Linked DNA regions of Homo sapiens: region 2 is linked to region 1. The links come from fine-mapping of genetic effects on gene expression. A gene starts in region 1. The other region holds a variant in brackets. All regions are shown on one strand. Distances are between the middles of the regions.

What was found.
Region 2: its variant is fine-mapped to the expression of SRSF10 in skeletal muscle (FUSION, PIP 0.95).

The regions. Positions count from the first base shown.
Region 1 is chr1:23,978,989-23,981,900 of GRCh38, reverse strand. SRSF10 (serine and arginine rich splicing factor 10) reads left to right here and starts at 1,574. Exons shown (of 6, transcript NM_054016.4): 1 at 1,574-1,710. The coding sequence starts at 1,646. RefSeq lists enhancers at 1,250-1,299, 366-1,356, 1,310-1,639, 2,070-2,119, 1,357-2,347.
Region 2 is chr1:23,535,689-23,538,600 of GRCh38, reverse strand. No RefSeq gene overlaps it. Among named protein-coding and RNA genes, the nearest start is that of E2F2, 5.9 kb to the right of the region's middle. The variant G/CAG (reference allele first, on the strand shown) is at 1,528.

The DNA of each region.
Region 1 (2,912 bases):
TCTTGGGAAACAAAAATTTAGAATAGCTCTGCTACAGAGTGCTACAAACTATCATCACCTGTATCGAATCACTTAATTGTCTTAGATGCTGATTGACACAAAAATAATGCCTTTATGACTTTTTATTAAATAAAAGTTCATTTAATTTAACAGTACTTGAGTCCCTGCTACCTGCTTGGCACTGTGCCACACGCTGGAGGCATTCCAACTGAAGTCTCTCATCTCCAGAAGTTGACTCTTATCGAGCAGGAAATGGCTCTCAAAAGGGCCTCCAAAATCAAAACCATACTAAAGATTATTTGCTATTTTCATGCTCATTCTCTTACAAACGTGGAGTTTTCCAGAGGGTACATGATGTGTGATAAAGGGTAGTGGAGTGTGTCAAAGTTTTCTCTATTTTTTTTTTTTTTCTTTTTTGAGACGGAGTCTCACCCTGTCGCCCAGGCTGGAATGCAGTGGTGCAATCTCGGCTCACTGCAACCTCTGCCTCCCGAGTTCAAGCGATTCTTCTGCCCCAGCCTCCCAAGTAGCTGGGATTACAGGCGCGCGCCACTACGCCTGGCTAATTTTTGTATTTTTAGTAGAGATGGGGTTTCACTGTGTTGGTCAGGCTGGTCTCAAACTCTTGACCTCGTGATCTGCCCGCCTCGGCCTCCCAAAGTACAGGGAGGGATTACAGGCGTGAGCCACCGAGCCCAGCCGAAGTTTCCTCTATTTTAAGTTCTCATTAACTATTTATTAATAGGTATAACCCACACTTTTTTTAAAAAAAGCTCTTTGGAATCTTCCGTAATACACAAGAATATAAAGGCGTTCTGAGACCAAAAAGTTTGAGAACTGCTGCAATACAGGTCCGATGCATACCCAGGAAGCCGTCAGCAACAAAGAATACACTACAAATGACCACAGTCATGAACCTACAGTGTGAGGTTTGGTCCCACCCAGGTTGGGAGCCAAATGCGTGACTAAGTGGAGATGGCTAGGGTGTGGGTGAGGGGCAAAGGCAGGCTGAAAACACTGGAGAGACAGGCCCAGCTCTGCGCAAGGGCACACACCTCCTTCCTTTACACACTCAATACAAGCTGTAAATCCTTCTTTCGCAGGTCAGGGCATAACCTGGACCAAACGGGAAATTTAAGGCAAAATAAAAGCAGGACATTAACTTGGACCAACCGGGAAATTTAAGGCAGCCTCTCTGAACTAAATAGTTTAAAAATCTGTCCATTTAGTAGTAACCGCAAAGTTTGGCCTAGAGACTAAAACATCTGCTTCCTGATTTGGGGGTGGAGATGAAGTGGAGTGTAAGGTAGAAAACGGCGGGAAATGAAGACCTAAAGAAAGAAAGAACAGGCTTGGGGGAGGGTAAGAGGCACCGCAAGAAGCCAACGAATGACACCGACGCTGAGGCGCGTGCGCCAGCCCTCCGCATGCGCAGGCGGACGCCTGGTGTTCTCGCGGGAAAGAACCGTTGCGCCCGACTTTGCGCGGAGGTAGGAGGGGGAAGTGGAGGCGGGAGTGAAGTCTCGCGAGAAGAGTCGGTTGCCGTAGCAGAGCCCTCTAGCTGTGTGTGTCTGAGGCTCGGCCGCCTGAGCCGCGGACGGTTTGCTGAGCCCGTTAGTGCGCCCGGCCGAGACACGCCGCCGCCATGTCCCGCTACCTGCGTCCCCCCAACACGTCTCTGTTCGTCAGGAACGTGGCCGACGACACCAGGTAGGTACAAGGCAGGTACTCCGGGCCTAGGCGGGGAGGCCGCAGGCGCCTGGAGAGGACCCTGGTGGTGGCGGCACTGGGCCGGGGGAGGGGACGGAGTGAAGATGGCGGGTCCCGCGCCCGCTTTGGCGCCGAACTAGGCCGCGCAGCGGGCCTCAGCCGCCGCGTGGGAGCGAGGGCGGCGCCTCTGCCTTCGCCGGGCCGCGTGGCGGGGTTTTTCGGTCCCCCTCCCCCTCCGCAGTTTGCAGCCCCTTTCTCCCTGCTTCCTGCCGGCGCGAGCAGCCCCCCGCCGCGGCCTTTCCGCGACCCGACGGCCGCCCCCCATTGATTTGAAGTTCACATTCTTCGAGGTTCACGCCCCCTTGGCCCAGAGATTTTTTTTTTTCCCCAGCCAAAAAATAGTGAGATGAAATAACGGGATCGAGGGAGAGGAATGTTGCTACCATTTATCTTTGTTGTTGTTGCCGTTGTTAATATTTGGGGGTTTTAATCAGTTGGAGGTGTTTGGAGAAAGGGAGCGTTGAGATTTGGGGAGTTAGATTTTTCCAGTTAAATGTTGCGAGTAGTTTTTCTTATTTCCTGGAAATTCTGGTCACCCTTTGAAAAGGGAGGTTTGGGAAGCGTCAGTCATTAGGACGTTGACAGCTAAGTTAGATTAATTCAGACGTACCTTAAATAGGCTTTGTTCTCACCATTCCCTTGTTTCGAGTTGCCTTCAGATTATTTTGGAAGAGTTCTTACTACAAGATGAGGCTTTTTATTTCACAAATAATGAATCTACACACAGAAAATAAGTGGTTTGGGTTTTTGGTGTTTCGTGGGGGTTTTTTGCTAGCTTTGTGATTTGCTTTTGTCTTAAATTTAAGAAGGAAAGAAAGCAATAATTCTTTCCATAAATAATTCTTTCCATAATTTCTAATAGTTACGTTAGCATCTAGAGAAATTTTCTCTTTACGTCATCTTGACACTTAACTATTTAAGAAGTTCGATATTTGTGACTTTTTCAGACCATATTTATCTACTGTTAAGTGTGTAAATCTGTCGCTAAAATTGGGGAGTAAAAATAAGTGCTTGGTATTTTTCAGAGTGCTAGAGTCGATTTGATGCTGTAAAAGTAAAAAAAAAAAAAAAAACAAGGCTTATATACAACCTAATGCTGCTGTACCTTTTATGAAAAATGACGGCTGTAGATAAAAATAAGT
Region 2 (2,912 bases), 440 kb after region 1:
GGATTACTTGAGCCCAGGAGTCCAAGACCAGACCACGGGATATAGTGAGACCCCCGTCACTATTAAGAAAAAAAAGGCTGGGCACGGTGGCTCACACCTGTAATCCCAGCACTTTGGGAGGCTGAGGTGGTGGATCACCATCACCTGAGGTCAGGAGTTTGAGGCCAGCCTGGCCAGCACGGTGAAACCCTGTCTCTACTAAAAATACAAAAATTCACCGGGCGTGGTGGCATGCACCTGTAGTCCCAGCTACTCGGGAGGCTGAGGCGGGAGAATGGTGTGAACCCAGGAGGCAGAGCTTGCAGTGAGCCGAGATCGCACCACTGCACTCCAGCCTGGATGACAGAGCGAGACTCCATCTCAAAAAAAAAAAAATTTTTTTTTCCTTTTTTTGGCTGAATAATATTCTATTATATAAATATACCACTTTTTTTTTGAGGCAGGGTCTTGCTCTGTCATCCAGGCTGGGATGCAGTGGCATGACTTCTGCCTCCCAGGTTCAAGCAATTCTCCCACCTCAGCCTCCCAAGTAGCTGGAACTACAGGTGCACGCCACCACACCCAGCTGATTTTTGTATTTTTTTTGTAGAGATGGGGTCTCACTGTGCTACCCAAGCTGGTCTCAAACTTCTGGGCTCAATTGATGCACCCGCCTTGGTCTCCCAAAGTGCTGGGATTACAGGCATGTGCCACTGTGCCTGGACTCCACATTTTGCTTATCCAATCATCAGTTAATGGGCATTTGGGTTGTTTCTACTTTCTGGTTATTATGGATAATGCTGCTATGAACATCTGTGTACACATTTTTGTGTGAACATATGTTTTCAATTCTCTTGGGTATATGGGAGTAGAATTGCTGAGTCATGTGGTTAACTCTGTATAACTTTTTTAAAAACTGCTGAACTATTTTCCAAAGCAGTTATACCCATTTACAATCCCACCAGCAATGAATGAGGGTTCCAATGTATGAGGGTTCTCCACATCCTGGACGACACTAGTTATTGTCTCTCTTTTCTATTATAACCATTCTAGTGGGTTAGTGAAGTGTCATCTCATTGTAGTTTTGATTTGCATTTCCCTAATGACTAATGATGTTGAGCATCTTTTCACGTGCTTATTGGCCTCTGTATATTTCCTGTTTTTTTTGAGACGGACTTTGGCTCTTGTCTCCCAGGCTGGAGTGCAATAGCACAATCTCGGCCCACTGCAACCTTTGCCTCCTGGGTTCAAGCGATTCTCCTGCATCAGCCTCCTGAGTAGCTGGTACTACAGGCGCCCGCCATCACGCCCAGCTAATTTTTGTATTTTTAGTAGAGTCAGGGTTTCACCATGTTAGCCAGGCTGGTCTCGAACGCCTGACCTCAGGTGATCCACCTGCCTCAGGCTCCCAAAGTGCTGGGATTACAAGTGTGTGAGCCACTGCGTCCGGCCTGGCCTCTGTATATTTTCTTTGAAGAGTTGTCCAACCAAATTGTTTGCCTTCTTAATAAATTTTGGTACACACACACACACACACACACACACACA[G/CAG]CACATTCACATCCCATCCCAGATTCACTTCAACGCAATAAACCCGAGACAGCTGTGATTAGCCCTGTTTATCAGATGAAGGAACAGAGGCCCAGAGTAATGCAATGATATGTCCAAGAGCACATAGCTTATGGAGTGCCAAGATTTAGAATTTTATGTTTTTTTCTTTATTTTTCTTTATTTTTATTTTTTTGAGACGGGTTCTCACTCTGTCTCCCAAGCTGGAGTGCAGTGGTGCAATCTTGGCTCACTGCAACCTCCGCTTCCTGGGTTCAAGCGATTCTCCTGCCTTAGCCTTCCGAGTAGCTGGAATTACAGGTGTGCACCACCACACCTAGCTAATTTTTATATTTTCAGTAGAGACAGGGTTTTTCCATGTTGGCCAGGCTGGTGTCGAACTCCTGGCCTCAACTGATCCACCCACCTCGGGCTCCCAAAGTGTTGGGATTACAGGCACGAACCACTGCACCTAGATTTTTTTTTTTTTTTTTTTTTTGAGACAGAGTCACTGTCGCCCAGGCTGGAGTGCAGTGTCGAGATCTCGGCTCACTGCAGGCTCCGCCCCTGGGTTCACGCCATTCTCCTGCCTCAGCCTCCCGAGTAGCTGGGACTACAGGCGCCTGCCATCTCGCCCGGCTAATTTTTTGTATTTTTAGTAGAGACGGGGTTTCACCGTGTTAGCCAGGATGGTCTCAATCTCCTGACCTCATGATCCGCCCGCCTCAGCCTCCCAAAGTGCTGAGATTACAGGCGTGAGCCACCGCGCCCGGCCTGCACCTAGAATTTTATGTATTTAACAAACATTCATATAGTGTTTACTACATGCCAGTCACTGTTAGAAAAGCCCACGAACCCATCTTCCAACAATGTTCCAGTAAAAAGGTTACCACTAGCAGAACTTCCTTAAAGCAATACCTTGTTTCTCTTTTTAAAAAACAACTTTTTTTTCTCCAATCACCAAAGTAATACATGTTTATTGTAGAATAGGAAAAGCACAAAGAAGATGGAGCAGGGATTTTTCTCCCTTGTTTCCCATAGCTCTGATCTGGTTTCTCTGTGATTTGGGATTCGTGTGAACAGGTGATGTGCTGAGGAGCCCGGGACAGGGAATATGTACCTTCAGGAAGTGTCTGTCAAGCAGTTTGTATTCTGATTAACAGGACTTTGAGCACAGGGAATCTGTGGAATTTTTCAGGAGAAGATACACCAGCTGGAATGGAAGTTTGCTTTAGTTTGGGGATTTTTCCAGGACTATCTGGGGTTGCCTGGAACAGGAACTTCCTCACTTACCTGCTCTGTGGCCTCAGGCAAGTCATGGCTTCCTCATCTGGAAAATAGTACTAAGCATCCCCAACTCATCCAGTTGTGGGACACAGTCTTTCCAC